Linked DNA regions of Homo sapiens: regions 1 and 2 are each linked to region 3. The links come from fine-mapping of genetic effects on plasma protein levels. A gene starts in region 3. Each other region holds a variant in brackets. All regions are shown on one strand. Distances are between the middles of the regions.

The links. PIP is the posterior inclusion probability: the model's chance that the variant is causal. Protein levels are from the aptamer-based SomaScan assay of Sun 2018.
Region 1: its variant is fine-mapped to the plasma level of the VWC2 protein (Sun 2018, PIP 0.95). The variant lies in the coding sequence of VWC2. If it changes the protein, the assay may bind it differently, which can mimic a change of level.
Region 2: its variant is fine-mapped to the plasma level of the VWC2 protein (Sun 2018, PIP 0.95).

What each region holds. Positions count from the first base shown.
Region 1 is chr7:49,799,558-49,807,742 of GRCh38, reverse strand. It overlaps VWC2 (von Willebrand factor C domain containing 2), which reads right to left. Exons shown (of 4, transcript NM_198570.5): 3 at 4,903-5,032. Among named protein-coding and RNA genes, the nearest start is that of VWC2, 30 kb to the right of the region's middle. The variant T/G (reference allele first, on the strand shown) is at 4,962.
Region 2 is chr7:49,727,152-49,735,336 of GRCh38, reverse strand. No RefSeq gene overlaps it. Among named protein-coding and RNA genes, the nearest start is that of VWC2, 42 kb to the left of the region's middle. The variant TCACC/C (reference allele first, on the strand shown) is at 3,842.
Region 3 is chr7:49,770,502-49,778,686 of GRCh38, reverse strand. It overlaps VWC2 (von Willebrand factor C domain containing 2), which reads right to left and starts at 5,049. Exons shown (of 4, transcript NM_198570.5): 1 at 4,574-5,049; 2 at 2,556-3,354. The coding sequence starts at 3,251.

The DNA.
Region 1 (8,185 bases), 29 kb before region 3:
GTGCTTTTAATGTTCTTTTAACCTTTGCATACTCAAAGTGATAAAGCTGTTCTATGTTTTCCTCTAAAAGCATTATTGTTTTAGCCTTCATATTTAAATCAGCAATCTGTTTGGAAATGATTTTTTGTCAAATGTGAGGTAGCAATCATGATCTCTTTTATCTCCATACTGCTATTCAGTTGGTCTAGCACAATTCACTGGAAAGATTACTCCTTTCCCACTGTCCTGTGATGTCAGGTTAGTCACACAGCTGGTGGTCTTACATGCACAGGCCTTTTCTGACTTTGTCCTGTTCCATTTGTCAGTCTTTCTTTGGGACCAAACCACAACGGGCTAATTACTATCTCTTGGAGTGAGTCTAAATATTTGTACATTTTCCAGCTTTGTTGTTCCTCTTGGATATTTCTCAAGCCAGTCTTTAGCTTTTGTATACCATTTGGATTTTAGAATCAGTTTGATAATTGCTACAGAAAACCATTGGATTTTTGGCTAGAATTTTGTACTGAATCAATAGATTACTTTGAAGCAGACTCACATCTTTGTGTTATTGAGTCTTTCAATCATGAACATGATATATCCCTCCTTTTACTTAGGTCTTCTTTAATTTCTCTCAATAAAGATTCATGTTTTTTAAGTATGGAGACTTTTCACAATTTTGTTAGATTTACTTCCAAAAGTATTTGATTTGTATGATGTTATTTGAAACTCTAGTTTTTAATTCACTTCTATTTCTTTCTGGTATACAGAAATACAGCTGATTTTCAAACACTGATCTTGCTAAACATCCTTGTTAAAATCAACTGTTCATTTTGATATTTGTAAATTCCTTTATTTTTTATGGGCACAATCACGTAATCTGTAAATAATCACAGAGAATTTTCATAAAATTTGTATTATTTCCTTGGTAAGAATTTTGGAAGGATTCAATGGTGAGACCACATAGGAGCAGGCTTTTCTTTGTGAGAGGATCTTGATATGACCACACACACACGCACACACACACACAAACACACACACACACACCATTCCGTTTTGTCTAACCCACTGCATGACATTTACTACCATCTTATCCTACTCTATGAAATACATAGGAAAACAAACAAAACTCTGCCTAATTCTCAGTCAGTGCTTCTTACATATTTTCCCATGAACGTATGTTTAATAATTTGACGTCTCAGTGTTTATCTTTAAAGTGTCATAAATGTTTTTCACTTTCCTCCAAAAAATGTTTTCCTGTAAAAATAAAGCTGCAAATAATAATCATCAGGTGGCAGTAATACTTCAGGGAGATATACAACCTTTATATCCAGTGGCTTTGTGCTTTTGGCATATGTCGTATCCTCCCTTGGATACCATATTCCACCTTTGAGAAGCACAGCTAATTCTGACAAAGTCCTCATATTTCAACACCAATGTCCTACTTTTATCATTTTTCTTCTTTGGATCCATAAAGTAAGATGACATGTATACTTGCAGAATGGAGGTCTTCTGATCGCTAATGGGAGCCTAGTGCCTACTTAATGCAGACAAGCATGTCTAAAACTAAGGGGTTTGATCGGAATGGGTGCTGTGCACCTATCACCAGAGAAAAGCTGAATAGTTGAAAGTCAAATAACACTCACTGTTTGTATCATTGTGGGGGGGTGGAATTTAAAAACAAATAATGCCATGCAACATCCATTTTATCAAAAGAAAAACACTGGGAGATTGATCTGCACAAGTCAACAAAGTGAATATATTAAAGTACATTTGATTTGTGATCATTTATTTATATTCAAGGCATTCTTGGTTTCCAACTTCTGCTCCTTTGATGCAAGTGACTTTGGCAGCTAGCAACTGAACTGTAATTTTCCTTCTGTCGGAGAAAGAGCTATTTAATGCTACAGGTCAAGACATGCCAGAGTGAGGAGTAAAGGCTGGTCTACGGAGATCAAGAGTTAAAACCTTCATATTTCATCCAAGATAAGTCTATCCAAGCTTTTAATTTCATATAAAGCATTCATTTCTGATGTCCTCTAATCTGTGATATATCAAACATATAATTTTTTTACAAGAACATTGTTTATGTGGGGAGGCAGGGTTGGACTACTGTAAATTATTCATTAATCTCAGTCAGTTATTATAGAGCATTTGTTTTTCATAGAAACTGTTTTCATTTTTCAAGCAGCTCTCTTTTACTAAGAATTTCAAACCCCATTTTCCCTGTCAAGGTCAGAATACCCTATAACTAGAGACAGCTGAAAGCCAAGCTCTATCTGGTGAATAAAAGAAATGTAATTGTATGTGCATGATTAGATACATTTAAATTTATTTCCAGTTATACTCCCCAAAATAAGTTGTTGATGTTTTGATATAACTGCATCAAGCCTTATAATAGAAGTCTTTCTGTAATATAAATCTAGCTTTAAAAAACATATTCATCTCCCTTCTAAAAATCTCTAATGGGCCACCACAAAATCTTGCCTTATTCCATCCCATACTGCCTCTCAAAATATAGAGTTAAAGGGTCAACATTTAGAAGTTTACCATCAGGACAACAACCATCTCCCAAAACCATCAATGCAATATTAAAACAAACTGTGAATCTCTGGGTATATAATATTTATAAAGTGTTTAGTTTTTGTACATTTTTTTACTCAAAAATATAACTATATCTTAAATGAAAAAATTGAACACAGAAATAAATTACTTCTTTGTAAATTTAACATTTCTGCACACTTTTAAGTATTAATTCAAGTAACTGCTCAATGTAGTTCTCTGACTGTATGCTCTAAGAAGGATAAATCCTAAGGGCAAAAGAAAAACTCTAAAAAAATCTTGAACACTATTCAGTAGGTTTCAGGTTGGTGGTAGTCTCAATAGAATTTGTGCCATGTGTCTTATGGGAAAGAAAAAATAAGTAAATATATTGATGGTGTTGGGTTATGTATATAGAGAGATGGGGCAGGAGAGAACCAAAGACAGAGGGCCAAAGAAAGAGACAAAGCAAATACGGCAACGTGTTAGCAACAGGTGTAGCTAAAGGTATACAATTGTTCACTGGACAGTTATTTCAACTTTTCTGTAGGTTTGAAATTTCTCTAAAAGCAAGAAAAAAAAATCCAGGGGTTGAAATCCTGTCTTCTCACCTATTGTTAACACTCAAGCTAGGATTCCCGGCTATCTAATGCCAAGACTTAGTCTATAATCAAAATTTACAGGAAAAACATGGAATATCTTGGGTAGTTAAGACGCCAAATATTTAAGCAACCCATATTTAAGCCATTCACTAAACCCCTTGACGCAGTGAGAGTTGTTGTCGTCCAGTACCCCCGACATGCAGGGCACATGGCCTGAGCGCCAGCCCTCAGCTCTCCCAGCAGACCAGAGGCGCTCACTCGGGCTCCTCAGCGGGTGTGCTGAAAGCCACACCGAGACTCTGCCAGATTCTCCATCTGCCTCTCCTTCCCCAATCCCAGAGTCTTCTTCCCCCTTTATTAGTGTTAATTAGTGGTAATTAACACTAGTAGAGTAAACTGTATTGATTTCCCTCCATCTCACAGCTGGTGTCTCAACATCATTTTTTTTTTTAAAAAAAAAACACACTCCATGCTCAAAGTCCCCCTCGTTCTTGTCTAATGGAATCCTACCTCAGGATTTCTTCATAATTAACATGCACAAGAGACCAGCCAACCCTATATAAAGTACACTCTGTGACATCTTTGTTTTAACACTGTCCACTTGCCTTTGGAGGACTGGATGTACTATGCTACAATGATTATGACATTCCTAACACAGTCATCTTGTTCTTTCAGGTCTATCCTTCAACAGCAACATCATTCCCTCTTCCAATTATTTACCTCAAGAGTTTTACAATGTGTTGTAGTAAAATCTGGATATGTACAGGTACGTGGTCGAAGGTACCCATGGAACCTCATGGCCCGCACAATTTCGACTGTCATGACAGACTCTGGGAATTGTCTGAGCACCATGACCACCCCTGTGTCACCATCCACCAACACATGCCTGCCACATACCAAACCCATGCCACACAGCTATCAAGCCTCGGTCCAGCAACCCACATGAACGGCCGACAGCATCACAAGTTAGCTCTGAATGCTCTCAACCAGGGGTCCCCACAGCATACCCTGGGCAACATCCAGAAAGCCCAGTCGCTCCTGTCAGCGAGGCCACTCAGATCCTTGTAGACTCCGGCTGTGTCCCCTCTGTCCGCTGTTTCCCAAGCTCTGCTCAGCCTCTTGTCAAACTGCCCTCCGGGCCATAATTCTCAGGCCCAGCCAGCCTGGGTATGCACTCTTGTCAAAAACCGTCTTATAGTGTAATGCCCTCAGTACCTCAGGTACAGAGTAATCATCGTTTGTCAGGATGAGGAAACACTCTCCCATGACAAATTAGGATCAAGGACATCCTGCCACTTCATTTTCATAAAGTAAGCAAGGCTTCTGATCTACCAGGGGCTCTCACTGGGAATAGGAAGGGACTCTCTTCCTGCCTAATTTGCTTATGAAAAATATTCAATTATGTTCCAAGTTTCATTCACTTAGTAATGAAAAGTAAATGAGCCCAACCAGTGTGTTTAATGTGTCTTGGAAAGATAGAAACAGCTTTGCAAGAACAAACAAAGTTAAATTAAAATAAGTGACTCTCCTCAAAGGTGGAAATTGAATTTCTCCCCAAAGAACTTCTTAACATCCATAAAACATGGTGCTGATGCCAGTAAGAGAGAGAAGGCCTTGCTACAGAACCACTGTGGCTGAAAGATTACACACGTGTGTACGCATGTGTATTGATACATAGGATGAAACTCACGTATCCGTATGTGTCCCGTCTACCATGAAGCAGCACATGGGTTGTGCATCAGGGTGGGAGGTGCACCCCGTCACCAACGGGGATCTCACATACCATTTTTGCAGATGGGACAGCACTGATCAGGCTCGTACACAGGGTCCACACACTCCGTC[T/G]GGGGACACGCTGACACTGTGCATAGCACCTCACCGTTGGCTTCACAGCGACACCTCTCGCATGGAGACACCTGAAACACAAGCCCACAATCAGCACTTTAGCCTGCTGTCATGTTTATCCTACAGGGTCATATATATTTTTTTGAAATGGAGTCTCGCTCTGTCGCTCACACTGGAGTGCAGTGGTGCGATCTCGGCTCACCGCAACCTCTGTTTCCCGAGTTCAAGCGATTCTGCTGCCTCAGCCTCCTGAGTAGCTGGGATTACAGGCACCCACCACTATGCCTGGCTAATTTATGTGTTTTTTATAGAGATGGGGTTTAACCATGTTGGCCAGGCTGGTCTTGAACTCCTGACCTCAAGTGATCTGCCCGCCTCAGCCTCCCAAAGTGCTGGGATTACAGGAGTGAGCCTGGCCCTACAGGGTCATACTTTTCTTTCCCTAAACTTTCTGCGAAGACACCTAAGTGTTTTAGGAATGTTTAAAAAATGATCCAGCCCAGTGGTTTTCAGAGTGTGGACACAGGCATGCTGGGTGTTTGGTGAGTTGTCTTAGGTGCAAACGCACAGGACGGGCCACAGGGCTATGATGTTCCCTCTCCTGTCCAGCCAGAGCCACTGTTTAATTTGTGGTCTGCATATTGGGTTTCTTATTAAACTTTTTTTTGAAGAAATGTTTTTCATCTCTTTAAAAATTAAACAAATAAAAACTTGCTGCTGAGTTCTTGCCCATCCCCTCACCACGTAGGTGAATCCCTTGTCTATAACCCTGTCAAGTCACCACCCAGACTCACATGGAACACTCCCAGTGTTTCCAGTTACGAAGACACTGGAATAGGAAAGGGGAAAGGGGTGAAGGAGGAGAAACAGGGTGGCATCCAAGCGGGGCCAAGGGCCGGGAGCTCTATGAATATTCCCTCACTGAACTTTTACAGCAGCGCTAAAATACACGTACTCAAATTACTGACCCTTTGTACTAACAGGAAACTGAGACTCAGAGGTGTTAGGCAACATGCCATGGGCATGTCTGTCCTGTGAGCACAAGGTCCTCTTCCACTGAGGGCTCCTGACTGCGAGTCCATGGTGATTCCAATTTCCTCCAGGTCATTCTGCCCACTATCCAGCATCACGATGCTCTGTTAGAAACCAAGCTTCCATTTGCCTCTCTCTACTTTCCAGCCATGGGCTCATACTCTGCCTTCTTGAGCTATCCAAATCAAGCATACCAGCCATTCCCAAGAAAGCTGTACGTGGCTAACGGGACCCTCCATGGTCACTCACACAGGGCATGGTGATTTATCTCCTGGTTACCACCAATGGAGTGATTTTTGATCTGGCTGACCCAGGACAAAGCAGGAAGAGCATATGCAGACCCAGCCATCAGAAGCAAAACTGGGAAGTGGGGATACTCACTAGAAAGACCATGGAAATGGGGGACATGGAAATGGGTCGTATCAAGCTGAGTTCCTGCTTTGCCAGGGGCAGGGAGACCCCAGTTGAGTTGTGTGCCCCACGTCCATGATACAAATACCGCTTGTAAGGTAAAGAACATGAGTAACTCTCACAGATGCTCCCTTTGTCTATACAATGCAAACACTAAAAACTGAAATCTCCACTGAGTGGACTGGCTATTACGAGAAGCAAAAGCTCAACTGGAGTTTAACCATGTCTCTTTCTGAGGCACTAGACCACAGTCAACCTGCCTGGGAGTGAGGGCTAAGGAGTGTGTGTATGTGTACTTGGCCAAAAAAATGTAAAAAAGAAAGGAAACTTTGAAAAACTTTAGTGTAGCCTGAGACAAAACACTGACCTGGTTGGCAATGTAGCCTTAGAAGTTAAAATCAATCTTGAAGTAATATAAAGGCCTGTTTTTGAGATGAGTTTCTTTTGTTGTTGTTGGCACAATTAGGTTTTTTTTTTTTTTTTTTTTTTTGCTACCATAACCAGTGGTGCTCTTTATTGTTGCTGTCATCATTGTGGGTCTCATTTCCTTGTCTCCTACCAATTCCCTCATTCAGTCTGTAGCATTTTTGTCTCAAGGGGGATATATACATAGCAAGCAGAATGAGAACAGAATTCTGAGTTTTAAAAGCCAAGACCTTGAGTTGCAAGAGACATGGTTTATTGCATGTCAGAAGCCTTCAGCTGGAAGGACTCAGAGCATAAGCCCTCAAGCCCAGGTGGTGTGGATTACATGATGGAGAGCCAGAACACCCTGCCCCAGGGGAGGGGAGCACCATCCCCCTATAGAGATCAGGATAGTCAGCAAGGAGCAAGCGGGTCAGATAGTGAGGTCTGTCCTCACGAAGCAGCACAACGTGGCATCTACTCCTCACCTAGGCATACACCAGGGAGGGAATAAAAAGCACCATTTCCATTTGGGAATTTAAAAGAAGGCCAGAGCACACCCTATGTCATATCGCCGGGGAGGGCCCTGGAATACAGCAGGACCAGAGATAAAGGTCCAACTGCAACGTCAAAAAGGCTCCAGGTCCTTAGGCAGCAGGCGCTGAATCAGCCTCGTCCAGCAGCTTTCTGCATGAAGGTGCACACCTTGGCAAATGGAGCAGAGATCACTGGCCTGGAAAAAAAACACTTCTTACTGCCACTGGAGCTGAAATTTCATTGAATCCATGCCACAGAATACTGCTTAAAGGCATGCACACAGGCCAGCATGCTATTTTCTCAAAGGTTTTGTAGCTTTGTAAAAAATTTGATTGTCAGTTATATTGTCATTAAATATTTAGAAATCCTGATTCAGCCGCACTCATGTGCCCCATAACTGGGTCAAAAAGGAACTGCATATACGACGTGGTCCCATGGATTACAATGTCTTATTTTTACATATCTTTTCTATGTTTAGATACAAAAATACCATGTGTTATAACTGCTTACAGTTTTCAGGACAGTAACGTGCTGTGCAGGTTTGCAGCTTGGGAGCAATAGGCTATACCATATAACCTAGGTGTGTAATAGGATATACCATATAACCTAGGTGTGTAATAAATAGGCTACACCATCTAGATTTGTGTAAGTTCACTTTATGATGTTCACACAATGATAAAATCACCTAAGGATGCATTTCTCAGAATGCTTCCCTGTCATTTAGTGATGCATGATTGTATTTGGAGATTTGTTCACTTCTAAAAAATCAGAGTTGATGCTTAGAATTAGGATCGCCAATCAGGCCTCACCTCCTACCACCTACATCTGCCTTCACCAGC
Region 2 (8,185 bases), 43 kb after region 3:
TATCAGCAATGTGAAAACAGACTAATACAATATTCTTCTTCTTGTGCTGTGTTCTGAATAATTTTTGATGATCTATATTCTTTTTTTTACTAATTTACTATATTTATGTCCAATTTCAATAATTTAAAAAAAATTTAAACTTTGAGAATGAAATGTATGAATTTTTTCCAAATCTACCAGTTCCCTTGCCCCTTAGTTATATTTCAAAACACCACTTTTGTTTTGGGACACAAGTTATAAGTATTTAGTTTCTATCTCCATTCCTTTTAATAACTGCATTATAAGTCTTTGCTTTTATGCACAATACATTGTTTTCTGGCATGTTTTGTAATTTTTTTCTTTGAGTGATTGAATTTTTTTAGAACAGTTCGGAAATTTATCTGTGGGTTGAAATACATACACCTTAAGGACATTTACTTCTGTCAATTACCTCTAACACCACCAACCCAAGACTACGTCCAGCTAAATTCTTCATCTAAGGGTTTTCAGGCACTCAGGTAGCACGAATTCTGTCTATGTACTCTGGTTAGGTTTGATGGGACATTTAAAAAAGGTTCTCCATGCAGCCTTCAGCTTAAAACAGACATGTTTCCTGTTATCTTATTCTGTGTTTCAGGGTTGCTTTGTTTTTTGGTGAATCAACATTTAACCTGCTGGCGTGATGTTCATGTCCCACCTGTAAACATAGGTCACCTTTTAGACTCCCAACCTTGCTCCCACCCTAGCTTTCACCACCTGTTTCTTGCAGAAATATTTTAAGGACAATACTGTTTAAATAGAAATTCTTCATGTTGCTAAGATGTGAGCCTCTCTGCCTTTCCTAAGAAGTCTTCAGTCAAGTTGGTTTAGTAGCTATTCTAGTTTTTTTGTGTGTGGCATTCTGTTCATATGTATAAGCTGAGACTCTATGCATGTAAGACAGATGGAGAGGACATTTGTAGGATTTCCAGACATCAACTATTAATTAATTATGTCAGTGAAAACAGGAGTTCAGAGCCAGAGATAACCTTAACAATGTCAGGCCTTTGAGAAATTTTCAAAAATGTTATGGAGAGCTTTGATTGCTATAGGCTGTAAACTATGTAGTATAAAATGTTTTATTTTATTTTAAACTATTTTAAGGTGTAGGGAACCCATTGAACTTTAATAAAAAATCATTTCCCAATATGGATTGTAGTTTTTGCTGTTTTTAAAAATTTTTTTGCCTCAATCTAATAATCTATTGCAAATGTTATATTCTGTTCTAAACTACTTGTGTATTAAAACCAGCTGCATCAGTTTGGAAGACACCATTTTTCTTTAACCCCTTGTTTTTGTTTATCCAGTGGCTATCAAAATTGGTGATAATGATCAACAAATAAAAAACCCTGGGAGTTATTGTTGGATTGATTGCAATTGAGTTTAGTTATATAAATTATCTTTCTTTCTTCTGTGAATTTGAATGAGGAAGATCTCTTTACACAATTTAGTATAATCACATTTCAAAATAATTTTTTAAACGTGAGCATATAATGGATTATAATTCCTACAGTACAGAATAACTAAAGGAAATAATTACTTTTATGAATGAAAACATTACCATAGGAATTATAATCTATTGACAAATAGTTCATATAATCCAGTGACAAACATCTCATGTTCTAACATTTGTTTGGATCTTTGTAAGTTGTAAAGTGTTACAGAAATGCTAGATTTTATTTAATTCAGACACTAATTTGGCCTTTTTTTCAAGCCTGTTGTTAATTGCTTTAGAAGAACCAAATGCCTGTCATCAAAAAGAAAATATAAGCAATCAGGCCTTGTGTAAGCATAGCAGGTGCAGAAAACAAAAAGTACTGGATGATGCCTAGCCACCAGCTTCTCTCTTAAAAAGACAATGTTAGAATTCAGTTTGTGATGGTACAGTATATTGAATGGATCTGCTTTGAATCGTTTGTACCTAGTTCAGGAGCCAATTTGCTTAATTGGGGTCATGTGTCTATTGTCTTAAAAAAACCTATCAGGAGAAATAGTTAATTTCTGAGGCAAATGGTATAATGTATGTGAACGTTATTTAAAAACCAGTCATTATATGAATATAAATTATTATTATAAATATTTCCATCAAAATATCTTTTGGTTCCTGAATTCTATCTGCAATTATTTTTCTTGATATCCAAATTTAAAATTCAACTATCAGAATTGAATGGTTTAACCTTGTTATACTTTCTGATCAATGACTGCATCTCAATTTCTTGATTGAAATGTTCATGATAATAGAATTATCACTTATTGCAATAATAGTTATTTTCAACTGCAGAAAATTGTTTTATTCTCTGCTCTATCCTAAGGAAAGTCAGCCTATAGATTAATGTTAGAAGCAGCACTTCCTCTCGTTTCTCCTTGTACACTCCAAGGCCACAGCCTGGGTTCTGTACTCAGACTCAACATCACGTAATTGATTATGAGGATATGAAAAGACACATCAAGATTAGTGTATTAAATGTTTAACACCAAACTATTTATAGTAGCAGAATATTGTAAACAACCTCTTTGTCAGTTTATATGGATTAAATAAAAGTTGATATATCCATATGTTAGAATATTATGTAGTGATCCAAATATTTAGGAGGGATTTTAAAGAGATTATATGCATGACATCATTTTCATTGAAAAAGTAGTAGCCAGGATCATTTGTACATTAGAATTTCAATTTTGTATAAAAGATTGGCAAGAATGCTGAATGGAATATACATAAAATGTTTCAATGGGTCTCTGAGGGGTGATATGTAGGTGATTTAAAATATTTTTTATACTTTTCTATTTTTTTCTATATTTTCAACAATGATCACCTACTGTTTTTATTATCAAGACAAAAGAATAAAATTTCATTACAAAATGTAAAGGATCTCTTCTGAGATGGACATCAGCTAATTATAGGCAAATCCAGCTGGCCACTTGAATTTCTAAATAAAATTTGATTGGAACACAGCCACTCCAATTTGTTTCTGTATTGTCTGTGGCTGCCTTTGGACCACAGTTGTAGAGTTGAGTAGCTGCAATGGAGACTGTGTGGCCCACAAAGCCTAAAATATTTACTATCTTGATTTTTACACAAAAAATTTTCTGATCCTAATTCTACAATATCACCTTGCCACTAATCTCATCCAGCAATTCCTATTGCCATATCTGAGAAGCCCTCAGCCAATGTTGCTCCTCCCTAAATGCTTGCTTATTTAAGACAGGTTCTTCTCCATGCAGACACTCACTGTAACTTTTGCGATCTTAGAGTCCACTCCTGCTCAGTCAGCCACTTCCAAGAGCCTCTGAGAGCCTGTTCACCAATTGCGCTCTGCTTGTAGCCATTGCTATCATCTGAGGACTCACATTCAGGCTCTTTGTGGTTGATGCTGTGCCTGGAATTCTTGTCCAGGCTTCTGCTGTTATGGAAGCTGGTGCAGACCCACTTACCTTTCCTGGGTTACCTGGATGCAGCCACTGCATGGACTTCTCTGTGTCCTGCTGAGTTGTATCAACCTCTTCATTTCTCTTCAAATGTTTACTCACTCTTTTTGGAGCCTAGTCTGTCTACCTTGAGACAACCCCATTTTTCTTGGCTGCCCTCTGTTATCCTCAGTGAGGGTTTTGCTACAGGATAACCTGTACCCAGGCACTAGAGCAATGAAAAAGAATCCTGGAAGTACATTAGGCACTATGGACTCATTGGCAGTGGGGGAAAAATTGATTTTCCTATTCACAAGGAATGTACATGGGTATTCACTATTTAATTTAAAAACAAAAACAAAACAAAACAGTAAGGTAACACACTAAAAAGGAAATATTGTGTTTCTGCTTGACTCAC[TCACC/C]TACATAATTCAAATATGCTCCAGGTACTTTCTATACATTTTTCCTTTTAATTCTCCTAAGCACTCTGAGTATTATGATCTATTATGATATTTTATGGATTTCCTGGTGATAAATCAAACCTCTGAATGTTAATGCCATGAATTTAAGAACTCGCTATGCTGACTGATGTCAGGTCTTACACAAATGAGCTTTTGGGTTGTGGCCTTCCTTTAGAGATCCTCTCTGGACATTTTCTTGCTAATAGGACCATCTTTCTCGGTCTGTGGAGTTAGGATTTTTAGGCTATGTGAATCCAGCTTAGTCTTTAATGACTAGGAATCTTTCTCATCTGATTTATGGAAGGTATTTTGTATTGTTTCTAGTGTCTCTCATTTCGTTTTTTCACAGCTTTATTAAGGTATAATTGATGTATAAAAATCTGCACATATTTAATGTATACAATTTAATGAGTTTGCACACGTGCATACACCTGTGATACTATCACCACAACCAAAGTAATAAATACGTCCATGACCTTCAGAAGTTTCCTTATGTTCCTTTGCTTTTTTTGTGTGTGGTAAGTACACTTAATGTGAGATCTAGCCTTGTTTTATTCTGTTTGTCTTGCTATAAAGGAATACCTGAGGCTGGGTAATTTATGAAGAAAAGAGGTTTATTTGGCTCATGGTACAGCAAGCTGTACAAGAAGCACGGTGCCAGCATCTGCATCTGGTGAGGGCCTCAGGTTGTTTCCACTCATGGTGGAAAGGGAAGGGGAGCTGCCATGTGCAGAGATCACATGACAAGAGAAGAAGCAAAAGAGAGAGGGGAAGAAGATGCCAGACTCTTTAACAACCAATTCACAAGGAAACTAATAAGAGTGAGAACTCACTTATCCCCTCCCATGAAAAAAGGGCATTTGTCAGTTCATGAGGGATCTGTTCTCATGACCCAAACAACTTCCATTAGGCCCCACCTCTAACATTAGGATCAAATTTTAGCATGAGGTGTGCAGGGACAAACATCCAAACTGTTGAAACCCTCTTAAAATTTTGAGTGTGCAACACTGCATTGTTAACTATAGGCACCAAGTTGTATGGCAGACACTAGACCTTATTCATTTGTTTATCTGGGACTTTATACCCATTGTGCAACTTCCCATTTTCCCCAAACCCCCATCTCCTGGCAATTATCATTCTGTTTTTCTTAAAGAAATATCTGCACTCTTTAATTTATAACAGCATTATTCACAATAGTGGAATACCCTTCAACTCAACTGTCCATCAACAGATAAATGGTAAATAAAATGTGGTGTATTCCTTAATGAAATATTTTTCAGCCTTAAAAAAGAAGGAAATCCTTCCATTTGTGACAACATGGATAGACCTGGAAGACACATCCTCAGTGAAATAAGTCTGTCACAAATACTGCGTGATCCTACTTACATGAGGTATCTAAAATATCAAACACATGGAAGCTCTTCTTTCATTTTGCATAAAGCTTTCTGTGTTTTTTATATTCACAAGTCCCTATTATTTGGTTGTCCTGACATCATATGGTGTCTATAAAGGAATACCTGAGGCTGGATAATTTATGAAGAAAAATTTATGACACCATGTGGTGTCAGGACAACCAAATAATAGGGATTTATGGATATAAATCCATAATAATAATCAATGTATATTGACTCATTGATTAGTATCTGATGGAATTGTCGCTCTCCTTCAGATTTGGTTTTGGAATATTGTGTCCTTACCACCCATTTCCATATGCCCTGGGAAGAAAGGTCATTGATGTGGCCTTAGTTTTCTCTTGCATCCATCAGTTCTCAAGGTTTTCTTTACTCTCTAAGAATGAGCTCCTCCCACCAATCCACAATTTGATTTGAATTTTGCATATGTACTCAAAATTCTATAACACATTGCATTATCATTATGAGTCAAGAAATAAAATGGAATTCAGAAACATTTTGAGCTTTGTCAATGTCATTAGAAGAAAATACACAGGAAAATAGAAAATGTTCAGAGAAGCTCAATATTACCTCAGCATTCAGCCTCCCTGAAATCCCCCATGCTCAAGTAAGGTCTATGCTGAGTTATAATAACTGCTGAGCCTTGTAGACTCTCTTTTGGTAGCTGCTCCTTCCACACCATCTTTTATGTATCAGAAAAGATACCTTTTCCAACAATAGTAGACTTTTTAAGCACCCAAACCACACACAAGTTTATCACAATTCTCTCTTGAGAAGGAGAATGGCAACATTGCTGAATATGTATTTTATTTTATTTTATTTCTTGACTTTCCTTTTATTTTCCCAGATTGACTGCAATTCACTCACCTACGCTCTTAAGCCATTAATCATCCTTATGTGATATTTTTTCGCAAGAAGTGATGTCATGCCTGCATCCATTATTTAAAGTTGCCCTTCATATATCTGATTATGGACATCACATTCAGAAACAAATGCAAGATGGAGGTGTCATTTAGCTGAAGTCAGGAGAACACCAGATGTCCTGATGTTTGCTGCCCCTGCAATGGGTGTGAATTAAACTACACTTTCTTCTCTAGCACTGAGTTGAGGTAATGTTTTTACCATACCGGTCACTCACTCAGTCTGTTTTCTGTTTATGCCTCTGTAGGCATTGTCTTCTTTAGGAAGAGACTGGAGGATTTCTTTTGACTGAACTATCCAACAGCCTGCTCAGCACTCACTTCTATTGCAATGAGTAGCTAACCATGAGACCTTCCCTGAGACTCAGGCCAGGAGGTGTTGAGTGGTCTACTTAGCATAAGATGAAAAAGATGGAGAAGTCTGGGTGCAGTGGCTTACACTTGTAATCCCAGCACTTTGGGAGGCCGAGGTGACTGAATTGCTTGAGGCCAGGAGTTCAAGACCTGCCTACACAACATGGCAAAACCCCATTTCTACTAAAAATACAAAAATTAGCCAGGCTTGGTGGCACATATCTACAATCCCAGCTACTTGGGAGGCTGAGGCATGAGAATTGCTTGAACTGGGAGGTGGAGGTTGCAGTGAGCCCAGATCGCACCACTGCACTCCAGCCTGGGTGACAGAGCAAGACTCTGTCTTAAAAACAAAAACAAAAACCAAAACAAAACAAAAAGATGGAGAAGGATGGTACCTGGAAAACCTGGTAGTTGCTTTAGGAGAAGGCTCATTCTTCACTAGAAACTGGTCCAGGGTAACTTTTCTTATCTCTTACTTTGTCATATTAAGGTTTTTGGAACAGAATTATTGTTATTGGGATTAGTGATATTTTAAGGAAAGTGTTGTGGTTGGTTCTCAACAAGGAAGGCTAGCTGAAAACAGTCATATTGTAAACGAAATGATATATGACTTGGAGTGCTCACTGAGTCCAGGGCTTGCCCCTTAGCCCCTGGGCACTCAACGTTGTCAGAATCCTAAAACTAAGCAAGCTTGAGGAATGCAGAATCATGTTAACCAAACTCCAGAGAGAAAGAATTTTATACAATAGATACCAGTTATTCATCTGGAATTTGGAATAAAATAATGCCCAAGGACCGGATTTCCCTGTGGCATACATTGCTGGAGCCTCTACTCCCTGAGATCAATAAGTGGCATGGGAAGCCTTGTAAGTCAGAAGGTTACTTCTTGAGCTCAGAACTGAGATGATTTTATTGGCTAGGCTATCTTCATGCCTCCACGTTCACAGAAGGGGTTTATCTTTTTCCATTAGCAGAGTGCGCTCAACTCCATGGCCGGACACCTCCTTCTATGGGGAGGATACATGAGTCCTACAAAGTCTGCTTCCCTGGTTCTTCATTTCTAATGCTTTCATTGCTGACCAAACTTCTTGCAGGAAACTTTCCCCCTCTGAATTCAATAACATCTCAGTCAATTGTTTTCTTCACGTTCAGTCTCATTATATGAATGTATATCTTGCTATCCTCATTTCTTATATTTTTGTCTGTAGTAATTCTCAAAAGACAGCCTTAGTATAAGTTCAAGGTCACAGAGTTAGGGTGATGGCAGGGAGAAGATTTATTGCTGCCTCAGATTAGAGAACACCTTCCTCAGGAGGGGAAAAGAAAGATGCAAACGTGGGTTACACAGCCCTTCAACCCAAACAAAATTTAAAGTATATGCATCATGCATTTGCTGTTATTTCATTTTCCTTCTATATTGTGCCTCACTTCCTAGTCCCTAAATCCATCCTGTTCAAATCAGCTCTCTTTAATTCCAGTTACCCTGGCTATCCCTTACATGCCCAGTGTCTGAAGTTGTTCCCGTCTTTCTTGATATCAATCACCACCATTGAAATCTTTTATTTTCTTAAGTGAGAATTAGAAAACAAAGTCCATTTGGTCATGATAATGT
Region 3 (8,185 bases):
TCACAACTAACCCTATACCATTCTACATTCATATTTTCAACATTCTTCAAAAAAAGCATTGCTTTCTCTTTTGTACATTGAAGGAAACAAAAATGGAGACAATAAATGGCTTGCACAAGGCCACGATAAATTAGCAGAATGCCTAGAAATGTTCCCGATACTAACAAAAATGAGCAAACATGCTCTAACACTATAAAATCTTTATGTAGTTGACATATTGTAAGAACAAGCATATAATTAAAAATATGTAACAACTTTGCAACGTTCAAGCATGTGTGCATCCCAGCATCTGGTAATAAATGATGAAAGTTTAGAATGAAACGTCATTTGAAGATGGAAGATGCACTTAATATTCCAAAAATAGCTTTACTGGTATTTTAATTCTTCCTAAGATTGTAATCTTTCCAATTTCCCTTTTGTCAATATCATCTCCCATCCTCAGAGTTTGAAAACACATTCTACCTATGGACTACCAAACAGGTAGCAAAGAGGAAATTAAATGAGAGATCCCTCTCCTCCATAGACAAAAGCAGCTTCATGGCTGCTAGCATTTAGCATGAATTGTTAAGACAGAAGTTTGAATTATTTCCTTTACCTGTGATCTCAGGTAGGTAAGTGGACACTGAAGTATTTGGGCTTACTAGATCAAAGTGCTACTAATTCCTCAGTTTACTTCTAAGGACAATTCCAGAAAATTACTATGAAACTATAAATAGTGCAAACAACAAAAGGAATTAATTAAAAACCAACTGCTTATCTTTGACTTTAGAAGAGCCGATGATGTTACCAATTCAAAACTTAAGAGAATTGTTCTAGTGTTCTATGACCCTGCTCCAGGCCAAAATGGAAGGCCCCTCCTCTGAGCTCTTCTAGCACCCACAGGTTCCTTTACCTGGACACATTTGCCTGTGAACTTTTGTTCTGCACCCAAAACACCTGGAGAGATATCTACCAGACCCTCCCGTAGGCAGGAAGCATTTTGAGGGCAGGGTTTCTGATTTAGTTAATTTTGCATGGCCTGGGCGTGGTTCATATGAGTTGCTCATCCCAGTTGTCTTTCTCCAAAGGGCTGCAGTCAAATGTGAGTACTTAAGCAATGTATGCCTGGAGTTATATTTTGCTACATGAGCCTAGGGAAAGCTGGCCCCTTATCTTACAGATAAGAGAAAAGAAACCCAGAGGGCATATGTCTTTTGTTCCAGTCCTGCAGCTGGTTAGTGGTAAAGCCAGAATGAATAACCATGTTTCCTGACTCTAAATTCCAGCACTCTTTCCATACTTTGTACACTATATATAGATCTGTCCTTCCTGGCTTTGTACTTATATAACACTTGATAATTCATTGCCACAAGTCAGTAATTACATGGGCTTCACATCCTGGGAATTAGCAGATCTCACAGGCTAATTCCAGGAGGGGTATTCCAGCAGAATTCCTCCCTAAACCTTTGCTTTAGTAGCTGCACGTTCCATAACGCCCTCTGCAGGTGGGAAAAGGACAGCTATGGCCTGGTAAGTCAATGGGCTAAGTCCAGGCAGGCCATAGGTTGAACCTACCTTGAGGTGTTTGGAATAACTGAACACCTGTGCAGGTCTCTCTCAGGCCCCTAGCCCACTGGCAGAGATTTTACCTAGAGCCTGTGCATGCATGCTGTGCAGCACCTTCACCCAAACTAAAGCCCCAGTGGAGCTGGGCTTTTGGTTCAAGTAGAGTATAAGGGTTAAAAACCTAAGCTATGGAGTAGAACTGCTTAGTTTGACATATGAATCTGTTTCTTAATAGCTGTTCTGCCTTCAACACATTATTTAAATATTCTGTGTCTGTTTCCTCTTCTCCATAACATGGAGACAATGGATAATAATCCACCTCCTAGCATGGGATGAGATTTAACTAACGTACATGAAAACCAGCGGGATCCTGACGCACAGTAGGCATTAGAGAGATGGCCGGTATTATTAACATTACTACTACTCATCTGAAACAAAACAATTTTTAACCATTAACTGCACTTGTTGGTTTCACCATCCACTATGATTTGGCACCCAGTGAGCAAATATTTTCTTTTTCTTTTAATTTTTAGAACATTTGCATGATACCCTAAACACATAATCTAGGGAAATGGCTTTTTATATGAATAGTCTCCCTTAATTAGCTATTAGTTGAAGAATATATCCCAAATGGTACCGTAAATTACCCTGTGTTTGAAAGCAGGTTAAGAATTTCACCGACAACATTCCCAAATTAGGAGCAGTACATTAATGTTGAAAGTCCCTCCGATACCTGTTGGGATCCTTCCCTTCAGTGCCATAGGCTTCATCCTCATGAAGCCCTTTTAAAGTGAACACCGAAGGAATCCCTATGGATTGGCCACAGTGCTCTGGGAAGGATTACCTCTGCCCTGAAAAAGAGAGGTCATGTCAAAGGGACGTGAGCACAGTGCTCTCCACCTCTCAGAACCAGAGAGCACCTCTTCTTCAAAGTGGGGGACCACAGAACCAAAGCTGTTCCACCCCTTCCTGGAAGGTGCAAAGTCGCCCGGCGGGCGTTCGCATCTTACCACGAACTCCTCCAAAGTCTGATAGGTCTTGCCCCGGAACTCGCAGTAGTTCTTCCTCTCCTTGCACTGCGGGCAGCACTGGCTCGTGTCGACGTGGATGCAGCGCGGGTGCAGCCTCGGGCACTCGGGCTGCGCGCACAGCGGCCCCTCCTCGGTGCACAGGCACGGGCAGGCCGAGGGGCCCGGCGCGAACTTCTCCCCGATCGCGTACACGAAGCCGCTCTCGTCCACGCAGCCCTTGCCACGGTAGTCCGGGTACACGTACTCCTCGGGTGGCTCGGGCGTGGGCGCGAGTTCCGGGCCAATCGCGTCCTGGGCGGCTGCGGCCAGGGCTTCCGCCTGCGGGGTGTCCCCGCGGGGCCGGACCTGCAGATCCCCGGCCTTGGCGCCCCCGCCCTGGGAGACCCAGGCCTGCTTCAGCTTGCTCCACGGCTCACGGCCGGCGAGCCCACGGCCGCTCTTGCTCTTCCAGTCCCGGCCGCTGCCGCCCTCGTCCCTCGCCGGGCGCCCGAGCTCGTTCACCCGCCCCGGGCCGTCCCGAGAGGCGTGCTCACGCTTCTCCTGGCCCGGCTGCTCTGGTGCCTGGGCCAGCTTCTCCAGCGGGATGCTCGGACTGCACAGAGCCACCATCAGGCAGCAGGTGACCAGGAGGGAACTGGAGAGCGCGCCAACTGCCATCGCAGTGGAGCTGGGCATCCCCTACCACGTCCCGGCGGGCGGGCGGGCGGGGAGCGCGGCCGAGGGGCGAGTCGCATTCACAGCCCGGGGGCGCGCCGCCGCCAGCCGGGAGCCGCCGTCCCTGCGGAGAGAACAGCAGCACAACTGAGCCCCGCGGCCCGCGCGCGCCCCGGCCCGCCGCGGCCCCCACCCGGGCTCCGGCATAGCTCTAGATTAACGAGCTGGGCGACGGGGGCGGGGGCAGCATGCCCAGCGTCGGTGCACGGCCGGGGTTCTTAGACATCACAAACTGTGGAGCGATACATTGGAAGCGAAATCCAAGAACGACACCGGCCGGCGTGTTTCTGATGTAGTCGTGATTAGTGTTGGAGATGGCCAAGGGCGGCTTGCGGAGCCCAGGGAACGCAGCGAGCCAGGCCCGCGCCCCCCTGCAAAGCTCTGCCTTGAACCACGTAATTCAGGCACCCAGGGTGTCCCTCCCTAGGTCCTGGCCACATTTCCCGAAGGTTATTAAATGGAGAATTCAGCAGTGGAGTTAGAGACGGACGAATGTACAGGAAGATAAGAGGGAAACTCTTCCTCATTTGCTTTAGGGGGTTGTGCTGGGAAAATGCGGGGAGGTTAAACAAAGCTTCTCCTAGGACTCCACGATTCATTTCTAACAACTTCTTAAAAGACTCCCGTCTCGGGAGCAGACGCCCCCTCCCCGCTCTCTAAGCCCCGCTGCATGAAAGGATGCCCTCGGCCCCTTGCCAGAGGGCCGGGTCGGGGATTCCCGGGGCTTCAGCTCCTCTGCCGGCCCGCCCCTCCGAGCCTTGGGAGCCAGGTCGCCGGCCGCAGCGCTCAGTCTTGTAGTGTCCTGGCTGCGGAGCAGAAGCGCCCGGGCAGCACCAAGGTGTGCAGTGCGGGAGGCTGGGGCCCCAGGGCGCAGAGTGGGCGCGAGACCCTCCTACTCGCTGGATCCCGGCCAGCCTTTCTGGATTCCAAAGTTTCTGCCGCCCAAAGGGGCTGGGAGAGCCCGAGACGCCGCAGGACACCGGCAATCCAGCCTCTCTCCGCCTCACTCCCCGAACGCCCCCACTCTGCGCACTCCGGTGCGTCTGTCCCCTCCCCCTCAGCCCTCCTCCCTGAGGGCTCCGGACGTGCCCGGCCCTGCTGACCCCCTGCCCGGTCCCTGCCGACCTCAACACTGGGCGAAGCGCCCATATTCACAAACTTGGGCGGGGGAGGGGGTTCCTCCGGAGCAGCTGAGCGGCTGAACCCAGCTGGAGCGCGTCCGGCCGCGCGGGGACACCCAGCATGCACCCTCAGCCCTGAAGACCGGCGCCAAACCTACATACATGAGCGCAGGGCGCGGGCCGGACGCCGGGCTCGCAGCGGGCGCAGGGGTAGCAGCGGCGGGCGCGGGCCCGGGTTGCCAGCGCCCATCCTGGGCCGGCCGGCGACCCGCGTGGGGCGGACCACTAACAGCCCAGCCCCACCTGCGCGCTCCGCCTGGCGCGCACACCGGGCTAGGGCGTCTCTGGGGAGTCGCTCATCGCGCTGTCAGCTGCCGGTAGTCGCGGCCCCAACTCGCGTCAGTGCCCGCGTCGCCCTCAGTCGCTCATCCTCCGGCCTCGTCCCCGCTTCTCCGAGACCAAGCGCGCCCCGGGGGCCACCCTGGCGCCGCCTCGCTCCTCTCCGCGGAGGGGTTCGGGGAGCTCTCCAGACCCGGCAGCCGGAATGTCTGGGCAGCCGTGGCGCGTCGGAGGGAAAAGAGAAGCCCGGAGCGCGGCCGGCGCGCGAGTGGCACCGAGGCCAGCATGGGAGCTAGCGCGCCCGCCTCCCGCCTCCCCCTGCCGCAGCCGCCTCCGCCCGGCTCCCGTTCCGCTCCCTCCTCTGCTGCCCCCGCTCTGGAGGCCCCGCCTTGGCCCGCGCTGCCCCGGGGGAGGCCCTCGCGCTGCCCCCGGAGAGGCCCTACCGCCGCACCCGCTCCCTTTGCTGCGCCGGACCAACCTGTCACTCGTCCGCGCGGCCGCGTCCCCACCTCCGCAGCCGGCCGCAGACCCTGCCAGGGCTGCCATTCTCCAGTCGAGTCATTCACTTTGCGCTGGACCTTTCATCTTGGCTTTTCTCTTTTCTTTAATTTCTTCCTTCCTAATTGGCCCCCTCTGGCTTTCCTCTTTGTGGACAGCTTGTTTCAGCTACTGTGTTCAGATTGGGATTCGAAGGCCGTGTTAGTTTAGCAGACTGTTGAGACTTTCTCGTCTTTGCATTCAGAAACCCAGAGAAATAGACGTTTACGAGTAAGAAACGTAAAAATCTCAAGCGCGAACTTTCTGAATCTCTGCCAATCTCTCCCCGCTCCCATCTTCCTCTTTCTGCCTGCTCTCTCTTCTACTACAAATAGAAACCTGTTTCCTAACTTTGCTAGAATCCTCAACTGTTAAGCAGAGGCCCGGTTGTTTTTACTCTTTGATCTTGTGTAAACGAGAAAACGTCAATAGTACCTGTTCAAATTAATCCCCGAAATTGAATTTTCATGGAAATGGCCCATGGCAGTGGTTCCCACTCACGGCATTTTAGAATCCCTGAAAGTGCTCGGACGGTAAACAGATAAGCTTCCCTGCAAGGTCAGGCGCTCTGGCTGGTGGGAACTGGGGAGGCTGGTTTGGGACACAGTTATGTCTATCTTTTAATAGTATAGACAAACAAATCTTAGCTGAGGTGCTAGGGAGCCCTCCTTGAAAGCCTGAGAAGGCTGCCCCTCCACCCCCTCCAACACATACACAACCAACAGGGCTGGATGGAGGATTTCTTTCTCTCTCTCTCTCTCTTTTTTTTTTTTTTCAGACGGAGTCTCGCTCTGTGGCCTAGCCTGGAGCGCAGTGGCGCGATCTCCACTTACTGCAAGCTCGATTCCCGGGTTCATGCCTTTCTGCCGCCTCAGCCTCCTGAGTAGCTGGGACTACAGTCGTCCGCCATCACCCCCAGCTAATTTTGTTTTTGTATTTTTAGTGAGACGGGGTTTCACCATGTTGGACATGATGGTCTCGATCTCCGGACCTCGTGATCCTCCTGCCTCGGTCTCCCAAAATGCTGGTGAGCCACCGCGCCTGGCCTGGATGGAGGATTTCTATGTACAGGATGATTTGAGCCCTTCTGCTGTTTCAGTTCTCACTCTCATTTTTCCTTTTTTTTTTTTTTTTAATGTTTTAGAGACACGATCTCACTTTGTCACCCAGGCTTCAGTGCAGTGGCATGATCACGGCCCACTGCAGCCTCAAACTCCTGCCTCAGACTCCGGAGGAGCTGGGTGTACAGGTCACCACACAGGGCTAATTTTTTGTTTGTTTGTTTTGTTTTGTTTCGTTTAGGTTTTTTCTTTTGTTTTTTTTTTGTTTTTTTTTTTTGGTAGAGATGGGATCTTGCTTTGTTGCCCAGGCTTGTCTTGAACTCCTGGCCTCAAATGATCCACCCGGCCTCTCAAAGTGCTGGGATTACAGGTGTGAGCCACCACACTCGGCCCTTTCGTTTCTTGTTACCCTCAGAAAAGAGACAGGCCACATTTGCTGTGGCTGCAGCTGCCTACCCACCCACCTGCCTCTCATCACATGCTCTAATCAGTTATGGCTTCTGTGTCTTTATGATGCTCTAATCCAAATATCACACCTTTCACAACACCACCAAAATAAAAACACGGCTCGAGGTGTGATCATATGTAATGTGCAAAATGGGCCCTCGGTTCTATAAAATCAAGTGCTTTTATAGCATTGGTTAGGCTACAAATTTTGTTATTTGACTTATTAGCTAATTCTGTTCTTGTCATTAAACATCCTGTTTGTTTTGTTTTGCCAACAGTACTCTCATGTGGTTACGATGGGGTAGCCCCAAACACATGTGACTAATAAGAACGAAACAGTAACATTATGTGTCCAGGATTCTAACTGAAAAATTGATTGGGGGCTCAGCTGAGGAAATAATGATGTCCCTTTATTAATCCCACCTCAATCACCGGTCTCTCTGAATCAGAAACTTCTTGTCCCAGCCAGCTGCTTCCAGTAGAGAGCCATGAATATGAGATAGCCAAGTTTTCAAGAAGAGGCCTGACAAAACTGAGGATGAATTAAGTGACCAAGTGTCCAAATGGCTTTGTTCTGTTAGATATTCTCAGAGATAGTGTTACAGGCCTGATAGAATGAGGGAGGAAAGCAGTTTCCAAGGGATTGCTGTCCTTTGTGAAGAAGAGCAATACCCATGCAGCTTGATGAGCTGAGTAATTCGAGAAAATATAGGGGACTTTGCAGGCGTTGAAGGAATATACAATTTATTTATTGCCAGTGCAATGAATTGTTGCGATTAACTTTTCTTCTTTCCTTCCTTCTTTGTTCCTTTCTTTCCTTCCTTCCTTCCCTTTGCCCTCCTTCTCCCCTTTCTCCCTCCCTCCTCCGTCTCTCTCCTTTTCCTCTTTCTCTCCCTCATTTCTTTCCTTCTTTCCTTTATTCCCTCCCTCCCTCTTTCCTTTCTTCCTTTCCACTTATTTTCCTTTTCCTTGCTTTCCTTTCCCTTCTCTTCCCATCCCCCCTTTTTCCCTTCCCTTCCCTTCACTTCCCTCCCCTCCCCCTCCCCTCCCTTCCCCTCCCCTCCCCTCCCTTCCCCTCCCCTCCCCTCCCTTCCTCTCTCCTTCCCTTCCCTTTCCCTTCTCTTTCTCTCCACTTCCCCTTGTTCTTCCCCTTCCCTTTTGCTTTTCCCTTCCTCTTTACTTTTCCATCCTTTCCTTTTTTCCAGGCTAGAGTGCAAGGCAGGAGCAGAAAGATCTCTGGTCAGGGACTGAAGTGACATGAGTGTAATCCAAGTTCCACCAGGGGCCAGTTTTGCAACTTTGAACAAGTCACTCAGTGTTACAGGCTCTTTGTTTTCTCACCTTTAAAAGGGAAGAGAGAGGATCTCTGAATGAATAGGAAGCCCAAAGC